7 linked regions of the Homo sapiens genome follow. The protein of the gene in region 6 purifies or fractionates together with the protein of the main gene of each other region. This does not show direct contact. Each region holds a gene or a part of one and is shown on either strand. Other genes may lie near its edges.

The links.
Region 1: the proteins of FSTL4 (region 6) and GAS6 purify together in Homo sapiens (affinity purification with mass spectrometry; one large-scale study listed by BioGRID and IntAct). This does not show direct contact.
Region 2: the proteins of FSTL4 (region 6) and MAN2B2 purify together in Homo sapiens (affinity purification with mass spectrometry; one large-scale study listed by BioGRID and IntAct). This does not show direct contact.
Region 3: the proteins of FSTL4 (region 6) and METRNL purify together in Homo sapiens (affinity purification with mass spectrometry; one large-scale study listed by BioGRID and IntAct). This does not show direct contact.
Region 4: the proteins of FSTL4 (region 6) and UXS1 purify together in Homo sapiens (affinity purification with mass spectrometry; one large-scale study listed by BioGRID and IntAct). This does not show direct contact.
Region 5: the proteins of FSTL4 (region 6) and CHID1 purify together in Homo sapiens (affinity purification with mass spectrometry; one large-scale study listed by BioGRID and IntAct). This does not show direct contact.
Region 7: the proteins of FSTL4 (region 6) and PCSK9 purify together in Homo sapiens (affinity purification with mass spectrometry; one large-scale study listed by BioGRID and IntAct). This does not show direct contact.

The regions. Positions count from the first base shown.
Region 1 is NC_000013.11:113,825,756-113,829,682, forward strand, and holds part of GAS6 (growth arrest-specific protein 6 precursor), read right to left. Parts: intron 2,957-3,927; coding exon 2,792-2,956; intron 1,410-2,791; coding exon 1,241-1,409; intron 1-1,240. UniProt on the Homo sapiens protein: Ligand for tyrosine-protein kinase receptors AXL, TYRO3 and MER whose signaling is implicated in cell growth and survival, cell adhesion and cell migration.
Region 2 is NC_000004.12:6,581,310-6,585,236, reverse strand, and holds part of MAN2B2 (epididymis-specific alpha-mannosidase isoform 1 precursor), read right to left. Parts: intron 1-3,927.
Region 3 is NC_000017.11:83,077,763-83,082,467, reverse strand, and holds the start of METRNL (meteorin-like protein isoform 1 precursor), read right to left. Parts: upstream 2,860-4,705; 5' UTR 2,653-2,859; coding exon 2,483-2,652; intron 1,323-2,482; exon of another isoform or gene 1,030-1,322; intron 534-1,029; exon of another isoform or gene 397-533; intron 1-396. UniProt on the Homo sapiens protein: Hormone induced following exercise or cold exposure that promotes energy expenditure. Induced either in the skeletal muscle after exercise or in adipose tissue following cold exposure and is present in the circulation.
Region 4 is NC_000002.12:106,145,599-106,149,525, forward strand, and holds part of UXS1 (UDP-glucuronic acid decarboxylase 1), read right to left. Parts: intron 1-3,927. UniProt on the Homo sapiens protein: Catalyzes the NAD-dependent decarboxylation of UDP-glucuronic acid to UDP-xylose. Necessary for the biosynthesis of the core tetrasaccharide in glycosaminoglycan biosynthesis.
Region 5 is NC_000011.10:893,414-897,340, forward strand, and holds part of CHID1 (chitinase domain-containing protein 1 isoform a precursor), read right to left. Parts: intron 107-3,927; coding exon 14-106; intron 1-13.
Region 6 is NC_000005.10:133,399,253-133,403,179, reverse strand, and holds part of FSTL4 (follistatin-related protein 4 precursor), read left to right. Parts: intron 1-2,193; coding exon 2,194-2,442; intron 2,443-3,927.
Region 7 is NC_000001.11:55,056,548-55,060,474, forward strand, and holds part of PCSK9 (proprotein convertase subtilisin/kexin type 9 isoform 1 preproprotein), read left to right. Parts: exon of another isoform or gene 1-258; intron 259-783; coding exon 784-967; intron 968-1,488; coding exon 1,489-1,662; intron 1,663-1,951; coding exon 1,952-2,100; intron 2,101-2,896; coding exon of another isoform or gene 2,897-2,938; coding exon 2,939-3,116; intron 3,117-3,927.

The sequences.
Region 1 (3,927 bases), on a different chromosome or scaffold from region 6:
GCCAGTGGCAGATGGCGCTTTTCTCAGATGCCTTTCCTGACACGGTCACGCTTTTGACACCCGGGGGGAGACGGTGACACTGGATCTGGCTCAGGACGGGGCAGGACCCTCCCCTTTGCTCCGCGTGGATCCCCTTGAACCTGGGGTTCCTGCTGGGTGCTTGAGGGCCGGCAGCCCTGAGATCTGACGGAGGGGGCGCTGCCTGCCCTCTGTGCGTGTGGGGGCTTCACCATAAACGGCTCGGTGTCCAGGAATAGGGCAGGGCTGTGGTGCCCCAGTGGGGCCCACGTGGGGTGGGAATGTGAGGCAGGGTGGGGCCGAGCAGTAACACTATCCTCACAGCAGCACCCCCGGAGCCTGCACTGGGGAGGGCGGCAGCGTGGCGTCACAGGACTGGGCCAGCAGCTCACATCCACCCTGTCCTCCCTTTTTCAGGCCTAGGTTCACTGTCCCCCAGGCAGCTTCACGGCTGTTTTTACACACCTCCCATTGTAGCTGTCTCACCGGGTCATCGGTGACCACGGTGTCCACCATGTTACCGAGAGCTTCTCTGTGCCCCTGGACGAGTCCTAAGGCTGTGCTGTCTCCGGACTTTCTGCAAAGGACCCTGTAAGGCTCCCAGCCTCCCCGGCCTCGCAGGCACCTTCTCTCCCCGGCCTCCCGGCGCTGGCCTCGCAGGCACCTTCTCTCCCCAGCCTCCCGGCGCCGGCCTCGCAGGCACCTTCTCTCCCCGGCCTCCCGGCGCCGGCCTCGCAGGCACCTTCTCTCCCCGGCCTCCCGGCGCCGGCCTCGCAGGCACCTTCTCTCCCCGGCCTCCCGGCGCTGGCCTCGCAGGCACCTTCTCTCCCCGGCCTCCCGGCGCCGGCCTCGCAGGCACCTTCTCTCCCCGGCCTCCTGGCGCCGGCCTCGCAGGCACCTTCTCTCCCCCGCCTCCTGGCGCCGGCCTCGCAGGCACCTTCTCTCCCCGGCCTCCTGGCACTGGCTTCGCAGGCACCTTCTCGGCACATCTCTCTCATTTCTTCTTCACTGGCTGACTCTGAACTGAGTGACCTGCATGGCCATCCTGAGAGGTGGGCCTCTGCCCGCACCTCCGCCCACCCCGCCCACCCATCCCTGCCCCGGAACCGGAGGAGCCTCAGCTTGTCCTGACGCTGCCATCTGAGGCCGTCTGCTTGCTTTCAGCGTATGCCTGTCTGAAGGTGCAGCCACAGCCACCCCAACGGTAAGAGCCAAGACTTACTGTAGTCCAGGCTGTAGAAGGCGAAGCCGCTCCCGGGGTAGAAAGAGCCTCTCTCCGTCACCGAGAAGCACTGCATCCTCGTGTTCACTTTCACCGTTTCCTGGATGGTGGTGTCTTCTCCGTTCAGCCAGTTCCAGCTCCTCATGCAGCCATCCAGACGAGGGTTTATCTGGAAAGGCAGAGAAATCTCCGTGGCTTCCTGGGAGCGAGAAGCCCCATGCCGGATGCCCCAGTCGGTGGGTGGCGCCTTCGCGGCCCTGGTATGTGCAGCTCTACGGCAGAAACGGGCCAGTCCCATCGGTGGTGGCCATTTCACAGAAGGTTTCTTCACTTTACACAACGCCTCACTGCAGAATACCTATTTCCACTGGTGTATGCTCAAGAACTAAAGGTTCATTTTAAAGCTAGGAAAGGACTGAAAAGGCCATGTGGGTCTAAGGTCAAAGAGTATGGATTGTTCAACCATCCAACACTCATGTGAATTATTCAATATTCAATATGGCTGTGGGCAAATCAGGGCAACCCCCTTATCTGTGAAACGAGGAGGGTCCAGCCAGGCAAAGTCCCGGCACCAGGCTGTCTGTGGGCCTGGGAAGCAGGTGCCCCTCACAACACCGAAGGTCCCGGCACCAGGCAGTCTGTGGGCCTGGGGAGCAGGTGCCCCTCACAACACTGAAGGGGTGGCTTCAGCACAGGCACTGCCGACACTCAGCACCCAAAGACGCGAAGACATGCGTGCCTTTCTCCTGCCTGGTGTGGAAGTGAAAATACCCAGGATGACGGCTTAGACGTCAGCACGTGGGGGCTGGAGACACAGGTCGGGGGCACGGGCGTGTGCTGTGCTGAAGGGGAGAGAAGGCGGGACCTGGAGCAATGGCCCACACTGACCGCCCATCATGGCTGTTTTCCCCTTATGAGACTCACGGCAGAGTTACAAAACCCAAAATGTTCTTGGAAATTGTCCAAAAAAGTTTACTGTTCTGTTAAAGAATAATTTCGGCCGGGCGCGGTGGCTCACGCCTGTAATCCCAGCACTTTGGGAGGCCGAGGTGGGCAGTTCACGAGGTCAGAAGATCGAGACCACGGCGAAACCCCGTCTCTACTAAAAATACAAAAAAATTAGCCGGACGTGGTGGCGGGCGCCTGTAGTCCCAGCTGCCTGGGAGGCTGAGGCAGGAGAATGGCGTGAACCCGGGAGGCGGAGCTTGCAGTGAGCCGAGATCGCGCCACTGCACTCCAGCCTGGGCAACAGAGCAAGACTCCGTCTCAAAAAAAATAATAATAATTTAATTGTGTCTTATCTCCATTGAAAAATAGACAACTTTATTATCAATTCAGATGAAAACTTAGGTCTCATAAAAAGAGATGGTAAAATTAATGACATAGCTGTACGGCGACTTTGTCAAACTCTAGGAAACCTTTCCTTCCTCTAGGTCCTCCTCACACCTGGTTAATGGTAAACACAGGGCAGGGTGTGACTGAGGCTTCCTGACACCGTTCCCGGGATCCCAGCACACGGCGCGTCTACACAGGGACAGGTACAGTACTCACAGGCTGCACGAGGTCCTTCTCATGGAAGGGAATACCTCCCACGGTCAGGTTCAGATGATACAGTCCTCGCTCCGGTTGGAACAAGTCCCCGGCCACCGCGATTTTCATGACAGCATCCCTGTTGACCTTGATGACCAGATTCCGCGCCAGCTCCTCAACAGAGATCTGAAGAGAGGCAGCGCCATGAGAAAAGATGGGAGTGCACGTTCTGAAGGGGCTCCCAACTGAGAAAAACCACACTCATCCTCTCCTGAGCCAAGAGGGTCCCGACCTCGGGGAGGCCACCTGATCCTCACCTGGGCCAAGAGGGTCCCAACCTCAGGGAGACCACCTGATCCTCCCCTGAGCCAAGAGGGTCCCGATCTCAGGGAGACCACCTGATCCTCCCCTGAGCCAAGAGGGTCCCGACCTCAGGGAGACCACCTGATCCTCCCCTGAGCCAAGAGGGTCCCGATCTCAGGGAGACCACCTGATCCTCACCTGGGCCAAGAGGGTCTCAATCTCAGGCAGACCACATGATCCTCACCTGGGCCAAGAGGGTCCCGATCTCAGGGAGGCCACCTGATCCTCACCTGGGCCAAGAGGGTCCCGACCTCAGGGAGACCACCTGATCCTCCCCTGAGCCAAGAGGGTCCCGATCTCAGGGAGACCACCTGATCCTCACCTGGGCCAAGAGGGTCTCAATCTCAGGCAGACCACATGATCCTCACCTGGGCCAAGAGGGTCCCAATCTCAGGGAGGCCACCTGATCCTCACCTGGGCGAAGAGGGTCCCAATCTCAGGGAGACCACCTGATCCTCACCTGGCCAAGAGGGACCTGACCTCAGGGAGACCACCTGATCCACACCTGAGCCAAGAAGGTCCCAATCTCAGGGACACCACCTGATCCTCACCTGGGCCAAGAGGGTCTCAATCTCAGGGAGACCACATGATCCTCACCTGGGCCAAGAGGGACCTGACCCGGGGAGACCACCTGATCCTCACCTGGGCCAAGAGGGTCCCAACTTCAGAGAGACCACCTGATCCACACCTGAGCCAAGAGGGTCCCAACCTCAGAGAGACCACCTGATCCTCACCTGAGCCATGAGGGACCTGATCTCAAGGAGACCATCTGATCCTCACCTGGGCCAAGAGGG
Region 2 (3,927 bases), on a different chromosome or scaffold from region 6:
GCAGTCAGACCTATGAGCAAGGCCAAGCAAGACAGGGCAGGGGATGACTGTGGGAGGTGAGGAGTGGGGCTGGCATCAGGTGCACAGCAGAGGTGAGAGGGGATCAGGGGGAGCGTGGACTAGGAGTGTGGGTGGAGGCTGTGCATATGTAAGCAGAGAGGATGGAGAAGGAGCAGCCAGAGGGTGGGGGGAGCACAGGGGGAGTGCCAGCTGCAGGATGAAGGAGGGAGTGGGCAACAGCACCGCACTGAGAGGAGCCAGGAGCTCTGGAGGGTACGGCCTCGCACCAGACAGGGCAGCCGGTGGGGGCAGGCTGAAGGCTGCCAAGTCAGCACCCCTTTTTCACTCGCAGAACCTTCCCTCTGTTCAGGGTGCACCATGCCCAGCCTCAAGGGACGAATCACAGTTGATCTAAGCCAAATGTGGCACGCTTACTCCCTCCTGTCAGATATTGGTTCTCTCTGTCTGGCAGCTGGAGGGGCATTGTTAAGTAATGAACTGGGAGGCCATCAGGCTGAGCCGGCTCCAGGCCTCGAGTTCCTCTGTCAGCAAACCCAAATCTAACTTGGTGGAAACAGGAAAAGAGAACTTAAGCTTGACCCATCGGAAACTGCCAACCAACCTCTAACTAGGGACTGTTCACTGTAGGCAAATGTTTTCTTTGTCTTGCTTTCAGGAGCACCTTATAGACGTTTCCCTCTCATATTCCCTTAGTGGAGCCATGAACTGCTCACAGTCTAGTACTTCCTGATTCAGGAATCACTGTTTGTTCAAATAAATGCTAACATTTTAGTGTGTCTAAGTTTATCCAACAGAATAGACTATGGGTATAGAAAGCCCCCTCTCTTCCTTTTACTGCCTTGAATGTGGTGTCTGGTAACATGATGGCTGGAGCTATGGCAGCCATATCGTGACCACAAGGGTAAGGACATGAGAATCACAGATATCAAGGTACTGCAGAACCAGTCCCAAACTATCCCCATCTTGTTAAGTAAATGTTCTTAAGACTCAAGTCGCTTTGTTACAGGTAGTTAGACAAGCATGAGTGGGGCAGGGGAGGGCTCTTCCCCCACCCACTAGGAATGTTGGGTGATGGTTTGGCAATTATCACATTGCCTCTCTAGAAGTGAGAAATTGGCAGCCAGCACTAGGGAGAGGGCATTTCCTGATGGTCCACACCTGTTGCACTAACATGTTAATTGAATGCAGGTGCCAGGGAGACGTGACTTCCCGAGCAGGTGCATTAAGAGACAAAATGGCGGAGTTTGACCTTCCAGGGACACTCCACTGGAAAAGGGAAGAAAGCGTCAGATGGGCATGTGTGCAACTTCCTAAACACAGTGCGTGTGCTCACCTCCCAAGGGTAAGGAGGGCACTGTGAGTGCGGGTAGCCCAGCCTAAGGGAAGAATCATGGGAAAGGGGACCAGCCTATAAAGTCCTAGGATCAAGGATCAATACAGCACTTGACCTTCACGTGCCCACTTGGGACTCTTTCAAGCATATTTTCCTTTCTTTCTCATTTTAAAGCCTTTTTAAATAAACTTCCACTTCTGCTCTGAAACATGCCTCAGTCTCTTTTTCTGCCTTATGCCCCTCAGTCGAATTCTTTCTTCCGAGGAGGCAAGAACTGGGGTTGCTGCAGACCCGTACGGATTAGCTGCTGGTAACTTGGATACCTTCCACCACTAACAGCTTTACTTAGGTTTTCTGGCCGTCCAGCAGAAAGCATTCCTGAGACTTCAGGGTGATTCATGACCAAAACTGTTAATTGGCGTCCGATATACATTCTGTCCTTCTTCCTTTTAGTAACAGAACCACACACTCCTTCTTGGTTTTAGCAGGGCAAATGGACTCCCAGCCAGAGACTACATTCCCCAGCCTCCTTTGCAACTGGTAGAGGTCACATGACACCACTCTGGCCAATGGACTGGGAGCAAAATAGACTCTATTCCCCAGCAGTCCCTGCAGTTGAGGGAGGCCATATGATTAAGTTCTGGCCAATGGAAATGTGAGGAGTGATGTGGGCAGGTTCTAGGTCGCCTTTTACAAGGAAGCTGCCTGCCCTGGCTCCACCATTCCCTATCCCCTAGCTGCTGGAAGGACAACTCAGTGGGGTGAGCCAGTCTAGACTGCAACTCAGGCAGGCAACACTGTGGGGGATGGCTGAACATCAAGATGGAAGCAACGTGGATCCCTGGGTCACTCCATGGAGCAGAGCCACCCAATCACCAGAGTGGCCTGCACTGCAGACTTCCACAGGAGAGAAACACACCTTCCTTCTTGTTGGAGTCACTTGGTCTCTGTTCAAGCTGCTGAACCAGTATCCTCACCAGTATAATGACCAGGCCACAAGCAAGCTCACTAGCACATGCAGGGCAGAGGCCAGGATGCAGGGGCTGAGGGTGAAGTAGTGGGAGGTGGTGGGGGGTGAGGGGGTGGTGGGAATAAATGCCATTACAGCCTGAGCTGGAGGGTCTTGCTTTATGATGTTGAGGTCAGGAGTTCAAGACCAGCCTGGGCAACACAGTGGACCCCATGTTAAAAAAAATTTTTTTTTGAAGAGAGACAATTTAAGTGTGTTTTCAATACTGCTGGGGGCCGGGCTTGGTGGCTCAGGTCTGTAATCCCAGCATTTTGGGAGGCCAAGGTGGGCGGATCACTTGAGGTCAGGAGTTCAAGACCAGCCTGGCCAACATGGTGAGATCCCTGTCTTTACTAAAAATATGAAAATTAGCTGGGCATGGTGGTGCACGCCTGTACTCCCAGCTACTCAGGATGCTGAGGCATAAGAATTGCTTGAACCTGCGAGGTAGAGATTGCAGTGAGCCGAGATTGCGCCACTGCACTCCAGCCTGAGTGACAGAGTGAGGCTCTGTCTAACAACAACAACAACAGCAGCAACGGCAACAACAACAACTAAATACTGCTGGAAGGAGTCAGAGAGACAAGAGAAGGTGGAAGAGAGTCTGTGACACAGGAGAGGGATCGCGGATTCAGTGGGAAGGGAGTGGGGTTGGGGGACAGGGCTGAGAGCTTGGGTTTGAATGGCCAGGACAGCAGTGGTCATCCAGGATGGCCCAAGGTGTCTCCTTGACTCTCACCTGGACCCTTTGCCTCTCAGCACCTCTGAGGCGGGAGCTGGGCTCTCTCCCCTCAGGATAGGGGTGAGGGGTTCTTTCCCTCTGGCACCTGCCACTCTGCTGGGCCTCCGCTAAACATCCCAGCTGGGAAAGTGTCCCCTCAGGGAGGGGCATGAAAGCTCTTACCCCCGGGGGCCGCTGCCCACACCCAGCCTTTCCCTGACACTGCAGTGCTGGGAACAAATGCTTTTCCCCTCACTAGAAATGTCACATCTAAAATTAAGGTGGTGTTGGCGTGACTGCCGGGAGCAGGAGTTGGGGAGGTAAAGGCTGGAAAGGTGAGCTTACGGGCAGGCCCAGTGCCCCAGGCCCTGGCGGGCAGCCAGGAGTGGGTCTTGGTTGAGGAGATGCTTTGGCACCCTAGATACCCGAAGAAGAAGGTCAGAGGTCTAGAGGCTGCACCAGCCTGCTCCTGTCTTCCTTTGCTGTCCAGGGCCTGCCTCGAGGCAGGGGCTCCACCAAGGTGAGATGGAGGATAAAGGGCCCGGAAGCAGTGAGGGGTGATCCAGCCCCTCTTACCCCAACATATCTGAGAAAACCAGCCCAATGTGGACATAATTCACAGCCAGAATGCCTGGGACATCTGAGATGGGTGGTCTGATACACACACTCTGCCCCCGCCCTAGGGACTACAAGTTAAGGAAAGAGCCCAGGCCAGGCACACATGGGCTTGAGCGCCAGTTCTGTTACCTACTGCATATATATAAATCCCGCATCTCTCAGTACCTCAGTTTCCTCATCTGTCAAATGGGGCTGTGAACAGTACCACTTGCTACCAGGCTGTTC
Region 3 (4,705 bases), on a different chromosome or scaffold from region 6:
GTCAGCAAGGGTTACCACCCAGGTGGACATGCTTGTGGGGCACCTTCATGGAAAGGAGGGCAAATCCCAAGTGGATAAAGGGACTCACTGAAGGGGGGCGCAGGTGCACTGGAGGGTTGTTGAGGCACCAGCCCACACACCACAACTCTGGGTCACCAGGACAAAATGCCCGGCTCCTGTATGAAAGTCAGGAAGGGCTTCGAACCCACTGGCAGGTTAACTTTCCTTTCCCCACCTTGCAGGAGAGACGAACCAGGTGTGACCGCACCTGCGATGCCCGGGCTGACAGCAAGTGGGAAAGTTCATGGTCCACATTTATGAGCACTGGCTGATAAAGACGGGGCGCTGGTCCCGCCTCCCCCCACGGAAGGGAGGTTTCATCATCTCCTACTTAACTGCTTAGAAGAAACACCCAGCAACAGAGGCCGTCGATGCAGTGGCCAGTGTCATGAGGGGCAACTTTCCAGCTATCGGGGGATGAGAATCCACCCAGCACACCAGCGCTCGCTCCACCCTGTGCTTCGTCAGGACAGCTGGTAAAAAGTCACAAACACCGGAGGGTAGCAGGCAGGCCAGCGCACTCCGGTTTCCACAGCGAGTCTCTGTCACTGATTCGTGACGTGTGTGGATCAACGGGGCAGTGACCACAACAAAAGGAAGTCTCACTTACGCCCCAGAAACACAGCCGGGCCCCGTGTCCCCTCCAGATCACACCCGCAGCTCCAGCAGCCCCCACAGCTGCCCTCTGCCAGGCTCTGCAGGTGTGTGTGTGTTGGGGGGGGTCCCCTGTGTGTGTGTGTGGGGGGGTCCCCTCTGGGGAGTCTGAGGCCAGGACTGGCAACGATGGCGAAGAGGGCCTCCAGGTAGACAGGAGGGTGCGCAGGTCCTGGAGGGCAAAGCACTCCTGTCCCGCTGCTGTCACCTGCCTGGAGGAGCCGCCCGCCCCTGGAGGTGGAGGGGTGGCCTCCCCGCCACCCTCGGCTGCCTACCGCGCCCTCCCTTCGGGCTCCGGGAGGCGCCCCCTCCTACCGGGCACACAGTCCCCTGACACCCTGAAAAGGGCGCCGGCCCCTTCTCGACACACTCGGCCTGGGTGGCGGGGGCGGCGTTTCTGGCTTCGGTCTGCTGGAGCGGAACGCCCCGGGCCTCGGTTCGGGGATGCACCGACCCGCCGGGCAGAGGCAGCGAGCCGGGGCTGAATCACTCCGCGGGGGCAGGGGCGGCCCCAGAAGAGCCGTCGGCCTCGGAGGCTCCCGGCGCCGGCGTTCCCGGCCGACCCCCCCCAGACCTCCATCCGCCCGCGGCCCCGCTCGGCCGAGAAGGGAGGCGGCCGCTCCCGGGACAGCCGGGCACCGCCCACGGCCCTCGGGGCGACTCTGCCCCCCAGCGCCACGCCCCTTCCCCCGGGGAGGCTCCGCCGGGGGCGCTGGGGGGCGACTGTGGCTTCGCGGGGACCCGGAACGGAGGCTGCGGCTGCGGGGAGACCTGCGCCCGCCCCGCGGACACCACCCGCCCCGCACCGGCTCTGCCCCGACCTTCTCGGAAAACAGCTTCGCTCGACATCACCGCGTGACTCGGCCCGCGGCGGGGGCGGGGGCGGGGGCGGGGGCCGCGCCGAGGGGAAGCGGGACCCAGGCCCGGGCCAGCCCGGCCACGGCTCTCCGGGAGGCGCGCGTCACTCGGGTCCCCGCGCATCTGCGAACCCCGGAACTGGCGACTGCGAGGCTCGCGCAGGGCGGGTTCGGCCGCGGTGCCCTCGGCGCCCTGGGCTTCGCGTGGGAGCGGCGGCGGCTCCCGAGGGGCAGTCGCGGTCGGCGCCGCTCTCGGCGGCCACGCTTGAGTCAAAAAAAAAAAAAAAAAAAAAAAGTCCTCGGCCGCCACCGCGGGTGGGGGGGGGGGGGGTCGCCCAGCGCAGCGCGCGCCGCGGCCAAGGGCGGCCTGACCTTCACGGGGCAGGGGCGGGGGGCCCGGCCGGAGCCACACTCGGCCCGGCTCACAGGTGCCCGCCCGCGGCTCCCCGAGACGGAAGTGGCCCCCGCTGCGGTCCGCGCCCGATCCCCGAAACCGCCGCTCCCTCCCGCGGCCGTCCCTTCCCGCTCTGGCCCGGGGCGGCCTCGGGGCGCGCAACTCCCGGAGCCTGCCAGGAAGGGCCCGAGGACCGACCCCCGCCTGCCCCCGGGATGGGGTCGCGGGACCGGCGGCCCCCGAGGCTCGGACACGCGCGGAGCCGGGACCCACCCGGCCGCGCTGCAGGCGCGCCTCCCCCGGGCGTCCTCCGGGCCGGGAACCGGGACGCCGCGGGCTCTTTTGTTCTAGAACCGGGGGCGGGGGACAGCGGGCACCGGACTGGGCCTGGAGAGCGGCCCCCGGAGCCCCTGCCCCGCGCCCGCCCCCGGCCGCGCCCCCGCACGCTCGGCCGGCCCGGGACGGGAGGGGACGCGAGGGGAGGGGGCCGGGCCGGGGTCGCGCCGCGCACACTCACCTCCCCTTCCAGCTGCACCGGTCGCTGGAGTACTGCGCGCCCGCGCCGCCCAGCAGCCCGGCCAGGAGCAGGAGCAGCAGCGGGAGCGGCGGCGGGGGCGGGCCCGGGGCGGGGGGTCGCGGCCACGGCTGCCCCGCGCGCCCCCAGGCCGCCCGCGCCGCGCCCCGCATGCTCTGGCGCCGGCTCCGCCGCCCGGCCCCGCGTCCGCGACCCCCGGAGCAGACCCCGGAGCCGGCGAGCCGGGCGGGGGCGGGGCGGGCTTCGAGTCCGGGTGGTCACGTCGCGCGCCCCCCGCGTCCTCCGCGCGGCCGCCCGCCCATCCCGGCCCGCTGGAGCCGCGCGCAGAGCTCCGCGCCCGCCGCCGCCGCCGAGCCTCTGAAGTTGGCGAGTCCGAGTCCGCCCGGCCGGGCTCAGCTGGGGGGTGGGGCCCACCCGCCGCCCCGCCCCGCCCCCGACCCCGCCCCCGACCCCGCCCCGCGCCGGAAACTCCTCCCGGGGCGCCCGGCCGGACGCGCAGACACCGAGTCAGCAGCGAATCGGGGGCGCGGGCGCCGGGGCGGGGGGCGCTGCAGGAGGAGGGGGCCGCGCCGGGCGGCGAGCGGGGTCCGGAGGGAAGAGCCCGGCCTGGAAAGCGGAGTCCGGGGCCGGAGGGGTTGCAAGGCGAGGGCGGGGCGGAAACCCGAGACCCCCAAGTAGTGGCCGACGCGAGCCGCGGTCGCCCCCCGCAGACCCCCGCGAGGCGGTGCCGGGGCCGCATCCTGCGCCCCATCCTGCGCCCCATCCTGCGGGCAGCCCCGGCGCGGAGCGGTAAAGGAGGCTCCCGGCCCCGCCGGTTCTGGGTCCCCCGCGCCTCGCCAGCGGGCGGTGATCAGGGGCGATCCGGGCGCCCCGCGTTCCGCAGAGTTGGTGCCTCGGGAGTTCCCGGCTCCCTCCTGACCGGGGGGGAGGCCCGGCGGTGAGCCCGGCTTCCCTCCCTCCTCCCGGAGGACGTGCAGCCGCCGCGCCGGGGCCTCTGCCGAGCGCTGCCCACTCCTCGCTCCGGATACGCGGGGCCGGGTGGTTCTTGGGGTGGGGACGTCCTGCGCATGGTGGGATGTTGGCAGCACCCTGGCCCCCGCACTCTGGGTATCAGTAGCAACCCCCGCCCCAGCTTTGACAACCTAAACTCTCTGCAGATTTGGCCAAATCCCGCCCCCACCCCGTGCCCGCGGGGCAGAATCACCTGCGGAGCGTCCTGCTCGAGTGTGTTCCTCGGAGTCGGCGCCTTCCCCAGGTGGTCACCGCGGCCACCACGTGCCTGACCCAGTGGGGGGGACAGCGGAGACCCCCGCCCGGACTGGGGAGGCCCTAGAGACTCAGGCCAGAGAAGGGGAGCCAGAGGGTGCCGAGGGCCCCCCAGGCAGGAGAGGGCGGAGCTGGCCCGCCCGGCGGTCCCCGCTGCGATGGCAAAGCTGGCTTCTGTGTGCTGCGGGTCAGTGGCCCTGCCCGAGACGCCTGGTGTCAGTTCCAGAGCCGAGCGCAGCATCCAGCGGTGGGGAAGCTTGGCCTTGTCCCCTTTTCCAGCCAAGATACCTTCCAGGAGGACTTGCGAACGACCTGTGCAAGTCTGAATAACTGGGTTGTGACTACCAGAGGAGGCGGGGAGAGGGCTTTGAAAATTGTGAGTCTGCAGGGACGGAAGTCACCGGCAAAGGCAGGTGGAGCCCAGCCCCCAGCCCAGGAAAGCTGGGACAAGGGTGAGGGTCTGAAGAACTGGAAGGCGATGACAGTGACCACTGAAGGTAGTTTCATTGTAAGGATCTGTTCAGAGCACCCACCCCATCGAAAGCCTGGAGCCAGGACCTTGCCCAGCACATCAAGTGACATCACCCTGAGGCTCAAGGTCTGGTGGAGGTGCATTTCGGAGCTTGGAGACTGCCCCACCCACCCCCGTCTGCTCTAGGAGTGCACCTCCCCCCACCCCCATCACTGCAGGTACCAGGGTGCCCAGTGGAAAGGGACCTGCTGTGGAAAGGGACCTGCTGTGGAAAGGGACCTGCGGCTTCACACCTGTGCGCAGCAACTGCTTTCCATGCCCACCAAGCATAAGATAGCAGCCCCCCCAGGCCCGGTCCACCCTTGAAGGGCCACATGGCCTATCAGGGTCCAGATCATCACACCACGGAAGAGGCAGGGCAGTGCTGGGATCTCTTGAGTTATAGATGCGGACATGGGGAACTCAGG
Region 4 (3,927 bases), on a different chromosome or scaffold from region 6:
GTCTTGGAAGAATACAGAAAAATCATAGTTACAAATTTCAAAATGTCTTTGCTGACTGAGAATTTCCCATTAGTCAAAGGTTCTTGTTTTATAACAAATGGGATGCTGGACATAGCTCACGTGGCTTTAATATTACTGCTGAGAACTTTAAAAATTACTTTATAGAAAAAACGATTAGCAAAATGCAGAGATTTGGTGAACTACCAAGAAAAAAAAACTTAATATTTAAGTTAGATTCAAAAACTGCAGGAAAAACAAATATCTTTTAAATTGTTTATGAGAACAAATTAATAAGCAATACATGCTGTTTGTAGACTAAAGCCCTAAACGCCTAAGTCCACTGTGTGGTTAATTTCTGAATGGTGATGTGAACCCAGTGTGGTATACACTCCCAGCCACAGAGCACGATGAGGCAGCTGTGAGGGGTCTTGACGGTAACTCAGTAATAACAAAACCTAGACCCCTGCAAAGGTGAAAAGTCAACTGCGCTTGAAAAATACTTTTAAGTTGAACACAGGTATTTTATTCAAATTAAATGGTGTAACTGGAGGAGGATAAAGGGAATTTCATCTGGGGGAAGGTTATAGGCGGTGGGAGTGAAAAGAATAGGCTCAGAAAACAGACGTGCCATGCACAACTCAATTCTCTAGCCTGCTGTATCCTGTTCTCCACTCTGCCTTCTCTTCACCAAAATTCTCATTCATTTCACCCTTCTGTTTCAAACGGAAAGTATTAATAGGAAGACAGCAATCCTTTCTACCTAAAATAAAAGGTATACAAACTCCTAGGTCTATGGTTTTAAAACATGTAATTCTCCATGAAACTCCTGTTTAAAATAAATGAAATCTCACACACGATGAAGTATTCACCACGGTGAGAGAGTAAAGCCACCTGGATTTGAGTGGAGTGGTAGCTCATGCCTGTAATCCCAGCACTTTGGGAGGCCGAGACAGGTGGATCACTTGAGATCAGGAGTTCAAGACCAGTCGGGCCAACATGGTGAAACCCTGTCTCTACTAAAAATACAAAAAATTAGCTGGGCGTGGTGGCACACTCCTGTAATCCCAGCTAGTTGGGAGGCTAAGGCAGAAGACTCACTTGAACCCAGGAGGCGGAAGTTGCAGTGGATCGTACCACTGCACTCCAGCCTGGGTGACAGAGAAGACTCCATCTCAAAAAAAAAAAAAAAAAAAAAAAAGAAGCCATCTGGATGAAAAAGATCAAAAATGGCAGAGGAGAAGTAAGGGGAGGCTATAAACTAAAAATGAAATTTGGGTTGGGTGCAGTGGCTCATGCCTGTACCCAACACTTTGGGAAGCCAAGGTGGCTGGATCATTTGACGCCAGGCGTTCAAGACTAGCCTGCGCAGCATGGTGAAACCCCGTCTCTACTAAAAATACAAAAATTAGCTACACGCCTGTAATCCCAGCTACTATGGTGGCTGAAGCACAAGAATCACTTGAACCTAGGAGGTGGAGGTTACAGTGAGTTGAGATCACACCACTGCACTCCAGCCTGGGTGACAGAGCGAGACTCTGTCTCATAAATAAATAAATATCCTAAGTCCCCCAACTGAGTGGGCCCCCTCTTGGCCAAACGGAACCCCAGAGAAACCTGAAAAGCTGAGTTCCCAGCAGTGATGTGAAAGGAGATTGGACATGCCTCACTATACTTTCTCTTTTGGAATTTAGACACAACTGACCAACGTTAATATTAAAACAGAGATCATAAACAGGACCTAGGGTCGTGCCAGACAGGAGCTAAGTCACATCCCTCCAAGTCATTCTGACCCAGTGTATTGGTGAACAGACTTCCTTGTCATAACTTAGATTCCTTTCTGCTGACTCCAAAGTTTTACACAAAGATTTACTCCTTTAACCAATTACAAAGTAAAAAATCTCTAAAGCCAGGGAGGTCAAGGCTGCAGTGAGTGGCAATTGTGCCACTGCACTCCAGCCTGTGTGACAGAGAGAGACCCTGTCTCAAAATAAATAAAATAAAATACAGAATCTCTTAACCCGCCTATACCTGTGAGCCCCCACTTCAAAATAGCCTGTCTTTTTGGGCCAAACCAATGTAAAAGCCCTATATATTGATTTATACCTCCTTGTAACTTCTGCCTCTCTAAAATGTATAAAACTAAACTAATCCGCCTGCCTCGGGCACACTTACTCAAGGCTTCTTGGTTTTGTGTTTCCTGGGGCTGCAGTTACTCATACTGGATCATAATACACCTCTAAAATATTTTAGAGTTTGGTTTTTCAGTTAACAAGGCCAACCTCAAGAATAACCATCCCTTAACCACCACATAGATATTACATATGCTCTGATGAAATGCAAATCAAATGGTTAAGACAGGATGGGTGAGACCAGGCATCCTCATGCTCGATAGCTTTCATTTGGCTTTACCAACAGCACCATTTTCCAAATCCCCTTTGCCTTCAAGATAAGAAACTGACACCCAGAGAAGTTACGTCTTTGACTAAAATCCTCAGAGATCACTAGCTGGGACACACTAAAGCTACAGTCTTTCTAATTACACGCTCTCTACTGCCTGTCAATTTGTCTGGTTCGTGTTTCATCTTAAGAGCTCCCACATTCTACTGCTATACCTGAACAATGACTATGAAAAACGATTTTCCAGAAAAATAATTGAAATTCAAAGTTGACTCACCACTAGAGCTTAACTCACGGGATGAGATTTCATTTTATCTTCACGTTATTGCATTTTTTCCAAGTTTTCCATGATTTTTACATTTAAAAACTTGCAACTTTTAAAAAGAAATGTAACCCCTTTTAACATAACTGTTTCTCTATATGCAAATATTTCTGAAAACAAAATGTTCAGTGGCACTCTAACATTATCTCTGCACCCAAAATACCTGGCAGACAGTTCTGAGATATCAGAGATGCAGCGTATTAAATTACACATGATCATCTCCAACATCTCACTAGTCTTAGTACTGACGTAAAATTGTTGGAAGCACCTTAGCTTGACTAAAATGCACTGGAATTTTTTTTTCTGAAGTAATTTCCTTCTACCTAAAATACTTAAGATTTATATAATATAGCTGGATGGTTATGCAATTTTTTATCCTAATCAATGTTAGCCCATTAGGCAAGTGTTTCAAATAGAAACAAATTTGGTGAAAGCTTAGCACTTACAAAGCTCTATCAGGAACACTAATCACCAAACCCAAGGATATTCTTTGAATAACAAGGAGCTAATACCCAAAAGAGAACAGGAGAAAAGAAGTAAGACCTCTTACACTGAGATGGATTAGAACTTACACGGCTTTGCATGGCTTTCCAGTATAGGGGTTTGTCTCAGTGTGCTTTCTTGCTCGCTCTTGTGGGTGCCAATAGGCAGCTAAAGTGGTCTAGTTCAAGGTCAGCAGTCAAACTCATGATGCTTAGCAAATTAGCAAAAAATCAAAAAATGTATTTCAAAGCAAGTCTCCTCTTTCTGTTGAAGCTGTCCTAAGGCTTACCAATTTACTGAAAAGGCTTTAAGTTATAGCAACAATATACCAGACTCACATGCCAAATGCCTCAGAAATGTGCTTAACCTATGAGATGGCAGATGAGGGGAAAAAAAAAACTAAGTCTGTTTGCTGTGGTGATGTGTAAAGCAAAATAAATTCTATAATACTCAGCATCGACAGGAAGATCATTCCATGTGCACATAATAAAATTCATGGCAAGATTTTGCAGCATTCCTGTAACAGTGCTGCTGTGCTTTTAACGTGTCCACCAAAAGCACATTTTGGTAATTTAATCCCCAGTGCAACAGTGTTAAAAGGTGGGGTGATTAGGCCATGAGGTGAAGTAAATGGATTAATGCCATTATCAGAGGAGTGAGTGTGTTATCGTGGAAGTGTGTTCCACATAGAAGCACGAGTTCAGTCCCTTTGGTCTCTCTCTTGC
Region 5 (3,927 bases), on a different chromosome or scaffold from region 6:
GAGCGGCACTTACCCGGGGGTGATGGCAGGCGGGATGACCAGGAGGGCCAGCAGCCGGGCCTGGTGCAGAGCCTCGGCCAAGTGGGTGAGCATGTGGATGAGGCCCCTGCAAGAACCGAGAGATGGGGTCAGCAGTGCCTGGCACTGAGGCCTCTCCCAGGGTTCTGTGACACCCGCTGCCTCAGGGAGGGGTGGGGCTGGTCCCCAGCCTGACACCCTGCAGCAGGGCAGGTGGGCCCCTTCGTGGGAACTTCCTATCCATCTCTGGATGTAGCCCCAACAACACTGTCTCATGCCCCAGTGGGCCCCCTAGAGTGGGGGCCTGTGCAGTACCCCAGGAATCCCCAGAAAGAGGGGCTCCAACAACCAGAGACAGCCCCACGTGTGTACATCACACTTTAGACACCTAAAGACATGGCAGATTAAAAAAAAAAAAAGCTGGGCACGGTGGCTCACGCCGGTAATCCCAGCACCTTGGGAGGCCGAGGTGGGCAGTCACCCGAGGCCAGATCGGCTTGGCCAACATGGCGAAACCCCGCCTCTACTAAAAACACAAAGATTAGCAGGGTGTGGTGGCAGGTTCCTGTAATCCGAGCTACTCAGGAGGCTGAGGCAGGAGAATTACTTGAACCCAGGAGGTGGAGGTTGCAGTGAGCTGAGATCGCACCACTGCACTCCAGCCTGGGCTGAAGAGCATGACTCTGTCTCAAAAAAAAAAAAAAAAAAAAAAAAAAAAAGGACACACCAGGTAAGAAAAGGCCCCCAGCAGGCCCAGGACACTGATCCGAGGGTGGCCGCAGGGCACTCCAAGGGCCCCACCTGCCTGGTGTAGCTCAGGGAAGGAGAGGGCAGGGCACCGGGCAGGGCAGGAGACAGGGAGCAGCAGTTAGGCCTCCTCTGGCCCCTGGAGGTGGAGGGGGCAGGAGCATCTCAGAGCAGGCTGGCAGTGTTCCCCAAGGGATGGCACTAGCCTCCCTCCTAGCACGGCCTAGGAGCAGCCGTCAGGACCCCAGGCCGGCCGTGTGCACACGCTGGTGCCCATGAGTCTACCCTGCAGGTGGCCTCTGCAGAAACTGGCCTGGAGCACATGCTGCTGCAAAGCTGGGTTTCAGGGTGATACGTCCACACTGGGCAGGCTCTGGCTGTTACCGCACGTAGGAGACTGTCACTCTCACGCTGCAGGCCCCTGGGAGCAGCCCCATCTGGGGAGGAGACCCACCCCTTAGGGGATGACAGGAGGACTGAGAGTGGGGCAAGAGCCGGCCCCTGGTGGCCCCAGGTCCCGCCCCACTCCAGCACAAGCCTCTGTGGGGCTCAGTGAGAACCGGGTTAGGTCAGGACGAGGTGACGGTTCCTCAGCCAGTACCCAGAGGCCCTGGTGCTCCCAATGGTGCCAGGACCAGGGCCTGGCATGTGCAACTGCTGCATAGTGGCAGCTCCTGTTTCCCTGACATGGCCCAAGTGGGACTGTCATTTTCCAAGCCAAGCCCCCGTCAATTCCTGGGTAACTCTGGCCCACATCATCTGGTGTTAGTTCTGCCGGCTGCAATGCAGGTACAGTCCTCAGTGGGGAGCAGTGTCTTTGGGCAGCCCGTCCTCACGCCTCTGCAGCTGTGTCCACAACTCTATGGGTACCAGAGGCTGTCACACACTGTGCGCCACTTAGAGGTGGTGGTCAAGGAGGGTGCTGCCCCCGCCCCTGAAACACCAGAGCAAAGTGAGCAGAGTAAGCCCTGCCCAGATGCCTGGGGAAGCTGACCCTACCTGGGGGTCTCCTGCCTGGTTCCCAGCCTGTGGGCTCTATGCTGTCTGCAGGTACCCACAGCTCCCCAGGATGGTGGTGGGATGGCCTTCCTCCAGGGCCACACCAGACCTGAGGGCCAAAAGGTGCCCCCAGCCACTCTGTGAGGGGCCCAGGGAGCCTGGGTGTCCACCCACAGTCAGGCTCACGGTGTGGCCCAGAGCTGGCCTTCAAGGAGGACAGGTGTGAGTCAGGTCTACCCAGGCCCCCAGGAGACAACATGGGCCCCGGAGGCGACGTGAGCTGCAGCTACAGTGCTGCAGCATTGCCCGGAGCGCTCCTCACGACAGACCCCCTCATACTGCCAGCTGCTGGCACTGGTGGCTCCGAGCGCCCCTAACACAGCCCCTCTGGGCATGCGGACAACTGTAAGGGGCTGATCCAGAGCTCAGGAGGGACCAGAGGCAGCAACATCCCTTCTAAGGGCACTGCCAACAAACTCTGCAGGAAAAGCTGCCCCTGAGCCTCTGTCCAGGGCCCAGTGCATGGGACCGAACCTGCTGAGCCCAGTCTCGGGCCTGGCACAATGCGGGCTGGGGTCCCAAGTGGTGGTCAGAGGCAGGACTGTGCTGAGGCAGCTCCCAGGCAGCAGAATGCCCAAAGGAATCTGCCAAGCTGCTCTGAGGAGCCTGGATACTGCCTGCCCCTGCCATGCTGGCAGCTCCCGACCTTCCTGCAGCTCCCCACCTTCCCGCAGCTCCCCACCTTCCTGCAGGAGCCTGGACACGAGGTGCTCGCAGGCTGCTCCCAACCGTCCTCCCCTGCAGTGGCCACTCCGGCTCAGCAATCCCCCTACTGCCTCCTGCCCTCCCACCCTGACGTTAATGACCCGTCGAGCCCTGACACAACGAGGCCGTCTCAGCACCCGCAGCCTCCACCCCAGACACAACGAGCCTGTCTCAGTGCCCCCAGCCTCCACCCCAGACACGAGCCTGTCTCAGCACCCCCAGCCTCCACCCCAGACACAACGAGGCTGTCTCAGCACCCCCAGCCTCCACCCCAGACACGAAACTGTCTCAGGGCCCCCAGCCTCCACCCCAGACATGAGGCTGTCTCAGCACCCCCAGCCTCCACCCCAGACACAACGAGGCTGTCTCAGTGCCCCCAGCCTCCACCCCAGACATGAGGGTGTCTCAGCACCCCCAGCCTCCACCCTAGACACAACAAGCCTGTCTCAGCACCCCCAGCCTCCAATCCAGACACAACGAGCCTGTCTCAGCACCCCCAGCCTCCACCCCAGACACAAGGCTGTCTCAGCACCCCCAGCCTCCACCCCAGACATGAGGCTGTCTCAGCACCCCCAGCCTCCACCCCAGACGTGAGGCTGTCTCAGCACCCCCAGCCTCCACCCCAGACGTGAGGCTGTCTCAGCACCCCCAGCCTCCACCCCAGACACAATGAGCCTGTCTCAGTGCCCCCAGCCTCCACCCCAGACACGAAACTGTCTCAGGGCCCCCAGCCTCCACCCCAGACATGAGGCTGTCTCAGCACCCCCAGCCTCCACCCCAGACGTGAGGCTGTCTCAGCACCCCTAGCCTCCACCCCAGACGTGTGGCTGTCTCAGTGCCCCCAGCCTCCACCCCAGACACAATGAGCCTGTCTCAGGGCCCCCAGCCTCCACCACAGAAACTAAGCTGTCTCAGGGCCCCCAGACTCCACCCCAGACACGAGCCTGTCTCAGCACCCCCAGCCTCCACCCCAGACACGAGCCTGTCTCAGCACCCCCAGCCTCCACCCCAGACACAACGAGCCTGTCTCAGCACCCCCAGCCTCCATCCCAGACACGAGCCTGTCTCAGCACCCCCAGCCTCCACCCGACACAACGAGCCTGTCTCAGCACCTGCAGCCTCCACCCCAGACACGAGCCTGTCTCAGCACCTGCAGCCTCCACCCCAGACACGAGCCTGTCTCAGCACCCCCAGCCTCCACCCCGACACGAGCCTGTCTCAGCACCCCCAGCCTCCACCCCAGACACGAGCCTGTCTCAGCACCCCCAGCCTCCACCCCAGACACGAGCCTGTCTCAGCACCCCCAGCCTCCACCCCAGACACGAGGCTGTCTCAGCACCTCCAGCCTCCACCCCAGACAAGAGGCTATCTCCTGAGGAGCCTCTGGTGCCATCTCAC
Region 6 (3,927 bases):
CCCATGGCAATGCTCTGCGTCCTGGCCCTGTCTTGGGAGAGAAACAAAGGCTGATATTTTCAGAGCTGTTAGTTTCTTCTAGTAGGCGCCAGCACTTTCTAGGGTAACCCATTTTCCAACAACCCAGGAGAATCACGCTAATCAAATATGCTCCATGGCAAAGCGGCCATAAACACCGTGAGTGGGGGGCCTCCAGCCCAGAGCCTCCCTGCCAGGCGCCTGCCTGCCTTCCGCCTCCTTCCCTCCCCGCCACCATCAACCTTGACAGGAAGGCGTGCAGAGGGGCCGCTGAATGCCACTGGGCCTTCATGGTGACATGCGAACAATTAGCAAAGTGGATAAAAGAGATTCCCGCCTCCTTAGGATCTGCACTTTTATACTGCTCAGAGATATTTGACCTTCTAGTTTATTATGATTCAAGAAAAAGTCAATACTTCTTAGTTTGCCAAGGCTGGAGGAATTTAAATGAATTATTGAATCAAGCAGTTAATCTGCCGATAACTGATTTTTTTTCCTTTCAAATCTGTAATGATGAAAAGCAGACTTAACCAAAAACAAGAAAAATATATTTTTTTCTTTTTTTTTTCTTCTTTTTTGCTTAGACATTTTAATCCCATGGGTAGGACCCGGGGCTAAAAGTTTGGTCATGATTACTAGGGCCATTCTGTCTTGCTGAGTATTTTGATGGAGATTTAATTAACACTTAAAGCAAAGTCTTCTGAGGCTGTAAAAATCTGTATTCACATTTCAGTTGTCTTTTGGTGTCCCTGTGTAATTCTCAACTTTCCATCTGTACCTTTAGTGACATGTGCTGATTATCTCATTTCCAGACTCCCAGAATGCAGTGTGATGTTGGTGATGGACGCCTGTTTCGCCTTTCACTTAAACGTGCCCTTTCCAGCTGCCCTGACCTCTTTGGTGTGTGAGCTCTGGGTGCTGCTGCCTGAGATCACTGTGGGTGTTGTAGGGTGCAGGGGACACTCAAGCAATGTGGCAGCGCCCGTTTCCAGGGGCTCAGCCTTCTTGCCCATAACTGCAACATTGTGCTAGAAAGGACTGGGCTGTGGGGAAAGGCTGCTGGTGTCTCCCCTGATGACGTGTGTCATGGAGAACCACATTCTCCCCCAAGGAAATGGCCAGCCTCTGGTCTCCCTACCTCGGCTACCCCCACCCCCATCCTGAACACTTGGAGCATGACTTTCTTCTTATGCCACGTTTCCTCCCTGCAGTGACTCCCCAGTGCCTACAGTAGTGTACCTAAATTTCTCTGCTTGGCTCTCCAAGTCTCCCAGAAATCACACCTTGACCCCCAACCCCACCACTGTACAAAACTCCTACTCACATCTAGTCTTCTACCTGAGACCTGCAAATGCCACCCACAGGGCGGCTGGGGGAGTCTTGGCTCAAGCCTGCTGTGTTTCTGGGAAAACCTTTCTCTCCTTTGCAGGGCCCACTGGCACATCACCCGCTCCATGATCTCCGCCACTCCCAGTTACTTCTTCCAAACTTAGCTCCCTGGCTCCCATGCTCTTTGCCTGATCTGCATACATGTCACCACCTTACAGAATGACAAAGTCAGAAAGAGGGAAAGGTATGACTTGTTCATCTTTGAGACCCCTAAGGTGCCTAAGACACAGCCTGGTCCAAAGTCATGACATAGTAAAGGAAAAGAAGGAAGGAAGGAAAACGTATTGCAGGCAGGGGGTGGAGGGGACCACTTTTTTAAAAAGTCATTGATTTTAATAGGCCTCTAGTCCAGGAGGCTGACTGTGAGCCTGGGAGCAGTAGTGGCAGGCTTTGTCCTTCTGTGCAAGGTGCTTCTTTGTGAGCACGGAATAGCTGGGTGTTTTCATTTTTCAACTGGAAGCAGGAAAAGTAAGCCTAAGAAAGAACCAAGAGTTGATCAAAAGCCCCCAGCTGGGTCCTAGGTTGGAAAGGTGTTGTGTTTCAGATGTTCAGAGTGAGTCAGCCATGAAACCTGAGCTCTGCAAGGCAGGACACCCTTCTTGGCACCAATGACCACCTCATGGAGGGACAGGGACTCCCTAGGAGACCCCAAGCCCCCAGGCCCCACCTTGAGTAGCTTGGCTGCACAGGCAAATGGAGTCTGTGCTTGTGAGCTACAAAGGAAGCCCTCGACCCCAGACCCTCTGAGTGTTTACAGCTGACCCTCTGTGTTTGTGTGTCTGGCAGGGCTTTCCAGCCACAACGAGCTGCTGGCCTCCTGCGGGAAGAAGTTCTGCAGCCGAGGGAGCCGGTGCGTGCTCAGCAGGAAGACAGGGGAGCCCGAATGCCAGTGCCTGGAGGCATGCAGGCCCAGCTACGTGCCTGTGTGCGGCTCTGATGGGAGGTTTTATGAAAACCACTGTAAGCTCCACCGTGCTGCTTGCCTCCTGGGAAAGAGGATCACCGTCATCCACAGCAAGGACTGTTTCCTCAAAGGTAGGAACAGGGCCCTTGCCCTGTGGTTTTGGGTTTTGTGATGGGTCTTCCAATGCCTTTTTGACAAGTGACCTGGGTGCTGAGTCTACAAGTTACATATGTTTAGGAAATAAAGACAAAGACTGGTGTGTAACAAAATAGCAGCAGTGGCATTTTGGTGATGCATACTCTGTGTCCCACCTCCAGAGACCCCTGCCCTTAGAGGAAGCTCCTTGGGGAGTAGAATCCAGGCAGGTCAAATTAAAACCTGGCTGGTACAGGTTCACTAGGGACCAGGCAACAGGGCACTACCCAGGTCTCCACATAGGACGGGCCTTTGCAAGGTTGTGACAAGGACCATGTTTACCCTTCTGCACAGAGTCCCATGAATCAGGAGGCTGTGCTGTGCATAGAATGTGGTCAGGCAGACACCAGCGCAATGTCTTCCAGCGTGACAAGGACACAAACTCTGGCCTGGGGCAGTTGTTGATGGGAAGGCATCCCATGTCTTGCCTGTCCAGAACACCTCTGAGCAAGACAAGGAAGCCCCTGCATGGACATCAGAACATGTCTGTGGAGCTGGGGCCAAGGATTCATGCTTTAGGCTGAGATTGAGTCAGAAAAGAAGGGAAGTACCAGCTCCCACTAGACGGTAAGAACCATTAGGGCAGCGGCTATGGCTGTCTTATGCGCTTATGTATTAGCACCTAGCACTGTGCCCTGCACCAAGAAAATGCTCAATGGCTCCCAGATGCTTGAAGATACAAGGGTCAGAATGCACATCCTGGGTTGATTGATGTGGCCCTGGTAAATAGTACATGCCATGGCCTGTGGAAGTATTTATTGTATACAAATATTTGTGTACAAAATGGGTATACATGAATTAGGAAGTGTGTAGAAGACAGAAGCAGCTTGCAGGCAGATGGGAACAGGCCCACATAGCCTGAGCTACGAGAGCCCACTTGGAGTTATGTGAGGTCAGGAATGTGCTTTAGGTTGCACAGGGAGGAGAGGAGGAGGCTTGGACTAGACACCTGCCAAGTGCCTGCAACACTAGAAGACAAAGGCGTGAGAGCAGTCCAGGCTGTAAAGGCCTGGGCACCAAGTGGGAAGGGGCAGAGCTCCTGCCTCACCCTCACAGAACCCCACTGAGGATGGTATGATGCTGACACACCTGAGCGGAGGCGGATTCATGGCTGAGGTGGTGGAGCAAAGGTGTGTTGGCCTCTGTTACATCTATCTGTGTCACCTGCACCCACCTAATGGGCCACTCCACTCAGCAGTCGTGGCAGCATAGAGTGCTAGGCAGGGCAGGGCTTGGGAAATGTGCCTTTACCGGGTGATGACAATAGTCTTGGACACTTTCACAGCTGTGCTTATGATGCTAATGCCAAGGTGCTTCAGAGATCATGAGACACATTATGGAAATGAGGCCAAAATGAGCCTAGGAAAAACGTCCCCATTCTGGAAGCACTGCCCAGCCACGTGCCGCCAGTTCCTCTGCAA
Region 7 (3,927 bases), on a different chromosome or scaffold from region 6:
TCTGCCCAATACTCTTTGGGCCTCCCTGTTGTCCAGCTCTCTCCGCGGCTCCATGACTGACAACTTGAGCAAGGCTAATGTGAATGGGAGCGGTTGAGGGCTCAGACCTCTCACCCGAGGAACATCCACAGAGTGTGCCGCATGCCCGGTGCAGTGTGGCTGCGGGGACACAGACACGGAGCCTCGGCCCTGAGGAGCTGGGGGGCAGTGACCGTCCCTCCTCTGACCCACCACTCCTCCAGTGTCAGGACACTGCGGGTATCTAGGGGAAGGAATCTTGTTCCACTTCAAGTCTGGAACTTCAAGTCTGTGTGTGTGCGTGCGCGCGCGCGCGTTGGGGGTGGGGGTTGCAGAGCAGATGCGTACCTGACAGCGGTAACCTAGGTCCCCCCTGGCCTATCAAGGCTTCCCTGGCGGCCGAATTTAAAGGCATCAAGCAAACAAAGCCCAACACATCTCTGCCTTGTCCTCTCAGTTTCCCCCCGTGGCACTTAGAACCACTTGATACACCGAATAGTTTCCTATCTCCCCCACTAGGATGTAAACTCCACAGGGGCATTGGGAATGCTGCCTGGCTATGGTAGGGACAGAGGGGAGCACCAGGGCGGGGCAGGGGTGCCAGAGTTCTGCCTGGGCAGTCAGATTTTCCTTAGGAGGGGACATTTGAGTGGGACCCAAACAGGTGTATAGCAGTTGTCCAGCCCAGCTGGCAAGGCCTGAGTCTGCCTCTGCAACCCCTCTCTTGGGCTCCTTTCTCTGCCACCCACCTCCTCACCTTTCCAGGTCATCACAGTTGGGGCCACCAATGCCCAAGACCAGCCGGTGACCCTGGGGACTTTGGGGACCAACTTTGGCCGCTGTGTGGACCTCTTTGCCCCAGGGGAGGACATCATTGGTGCCTCCAGCGACTGCAGCACCTGCTTTGTGTCACAGAGTGGGACATCACAGGCTGCTGCCCACGTGGCTGGTAAGTCACCACCCCACTGCCTCGGCCACCGTGATGCTAACAGCCCCTTTGGCAGTCAGGGTCTGTGCCGGGACCTCCAGTGCCAGGCTCTGTGCAGGGGGACCAGAGATGAAGTAGGCCTGATGGTGCCTTCAAGGACACTCAGTCTGATGAGGGAGGCGAGTGCACAGAGGAAACACGAGGTCAGGGCTGTATTAGAGGGAGCCCAGAGGAGGCACCTGCCCAGCCCGAGGGTCAGAGAAGGCATCTTGGAGGAGGGACATTTGATCGGGAGCTTGATGGATGAATAGGAGTTCACCTGGCCGATAAGACAGCAACTACCAAGGCTTAGAGGTGTGAGAGGAGGCTGTCTTACCTCACTGAGTAAGGACTGCAGGCGGCTTACCTTCGAGAAGAGAGCTTAGTGTCTGTGTGCACGTGTGTTTGTGTGTATGTGTGTGCGTGTGTGCACTGGCAGGAGTCCCCTGCTGGGGCAGGAGGGCCGGGCCATCACCATCTTTCACCATTCACCCCTGCACCAGGCATTGCAGCCATGATGCTGTCTGCCGAGCCGGAGCTCACCCTGGCCGAGTTGAGGCAGAGACTGATCCACTTCTCTGCCAAAGATGTCATCAATGAGGCCTGGTTCCCTGAGGACCAGCGGGTACTGACCCCCAACCTGGTGGCCGCCCTGCCCCCCAGCACCCATGGGGCAGGTAAGCAGGATGGCAGGGTGGGCAAGTCCAGGCTGGGGCTTGGGAGGTCTGTGTGACCTTGACAGTCTCTCCCTTCTCCCTTGTCTGTGTAAGGAGGATGACGCCACCTTAAATAGGATTAAATGAGAATGGGGCTCTGAAAGGGCTGTGCAATATTTTCATAACGTGTTTTTATAGAGACAGTTGAGTATGTTCTTTAAGCCCTCCTCTCTCCTACCATGAACTAAAGATTTCTGTGGAGGTCCCCTCACTCCCAGCACCCCCTCCTCATCCCAGGCCCTTTTTGCAGGTTGGCAGCTGTTTTGCAGGACTGTATGGTCAGCACACTCGGGGCCTACACGGATGGCCACAGCCGTCGCCCGCTGCGCCCCAGATGAGGAGCTGCTGAGCTGCTCCAGTTTCTCCAGGAGTGGGAAGCGGCGGGGCGAGCGCATGGAGGTGACTGTACCCCTCCTTCGTGTGTGTGTGTGTGTGTGTGTGTGTGTGTGTGTGTGTGTGTGTGTGTGTGTCAGTGCTGGGCCCTCAGGGACCCCCAGCAAGCCCCTCCATCCTCCAGACTCCAGCTCTTCTGTAAGCTTACAGGGCTGGCCAGACCAGGAGTGGGGCACTCCTCACTTCACGCGGCTGGGGGCTGCTGGAGAGAGCCACAGCGGGAAGGGTTTCCTAGAGGCTGCAGGACAGTGCTGGATGGATTTTCAATGCTCACCTGGGTGTGAGCGTGCGGCAGGGCCGCGTGAGGGTCAGCGATCTGCTACTCTGGACTCAGCCATCTCTAGGCCCCTCTCACTCAGGTGCTCCATGGTTCTGGGAGCTGAGAAATCTCAAACCAGCAAAAAAGTGGAATTGATGTTGATGCTACAGGATAGTGCACAGATGCCATCTGGTTGCAGCATTTTGGTGGAAGGGCAGTGCCCAGCTAGGAGAGTGAGGAGGGGCAGGCATTTCTGGCTTGAGGAGATGGGGTCTTAATGCTCGTGTGAGAGGCAGAGTGGGTGGAGTGGAGCTGGCTGGATCCTTGCTTTGGCCTCCTGGATTTCTCTCTATCTCCATTTTGAAACCACTCTGTGTTTGGAAGAACTTTTGAGTATTCAGAGCTGCCCACTGGCAGAACAGTCTTCCTTGGGCAGGAGTGAGCTCCTTGTCCCCAGAAGGCTGGGTCTGGCTGGCCCCTGGCAGGGACACTGATGAGGGTGCTTGAGTTGATCCTGTCTAGTCCCTTTCTGTGTTTTCAAAGCCCATTCTAAAGCAGATTCCCATTTCCGTCTTTGACTCTAAGGCCCAAGGGGGCAAGCTGGTCTGCCGGGCCCACAACGCTTTTGGGGGTGAGGGTGTCTACGCCATTGCCAGGTGCTGCCTGCTACCCCAGGCCAACTGCAGCGTCCACACAGCTCCACCAGCTGAGGCCAGCATGGGGACCCGTGTCCACTGCCACCAACAGGGCCACGTCCTCACAGGTAGGAGGCTGGGCTTGCCCTGGGGTGAGGAGGGGTCTCTTTCTCCTTATGCACCCACTGCCCGCGAGGCTTGGTCCTCACAAGTGTGATCCATGAGACTCAAGCCTGACTTGCAGTTCCATACTCTGGTTCTGCCACTTCCATGCCCTTTGAGCCTGGGCAGGTGACCTTACTTCTCCTCATCTCAGCTTCCTCCTCCATAAGAGGGAAAAAGGTATTACCTGCCTCATTGTGTTGCAAGGAGATGGGCAGCATCTAGGGCACTGGCCTGGAGTATCGCAGGTGCTTTGCCTAAGGTGGTGCAGTCCAGGAGAGGCAGCTCCAGAGAGAGGCCCCCGGCTGGGGCTGAAAGGAGGGCAGACCTCGGTTTGAATTTCACCCTGCCGCTCTATAGCTGTGTGACTTGGGCAAATTACTTAACATCTCTGTATGAGGAAATGATGAGTGCTAAGCACTTAGCTTAGTGCCGGGACAATATAAATTCTAGCTATCGTTACTATTGTTTTCATCACCCGTTGCTTTAAAATCCAGCCTCTGGTATAGGCAACTATTGACGGGCTACCCTGTGTCGAAAACATGCCCAGGCAGGTAGCAGGAAGTCACAGATGGGGACCTCTTGGGGCATCAAGGGATGGTGCCCTGAGGCTGAGCTGTTCTGGTTGGGTGGAGCATGAGAGGTCTGGGAAGACAGTGGGACTCCAGCCTGGAATAAGAGGCTCAGAGTTGATTCTCGTCTGAGCACGTCCAGGGGAACCACTGAGGGTTTGGGAACAGGAGAGTGAGGGTGAGAACCTGGTTCTGGGCACAGCAG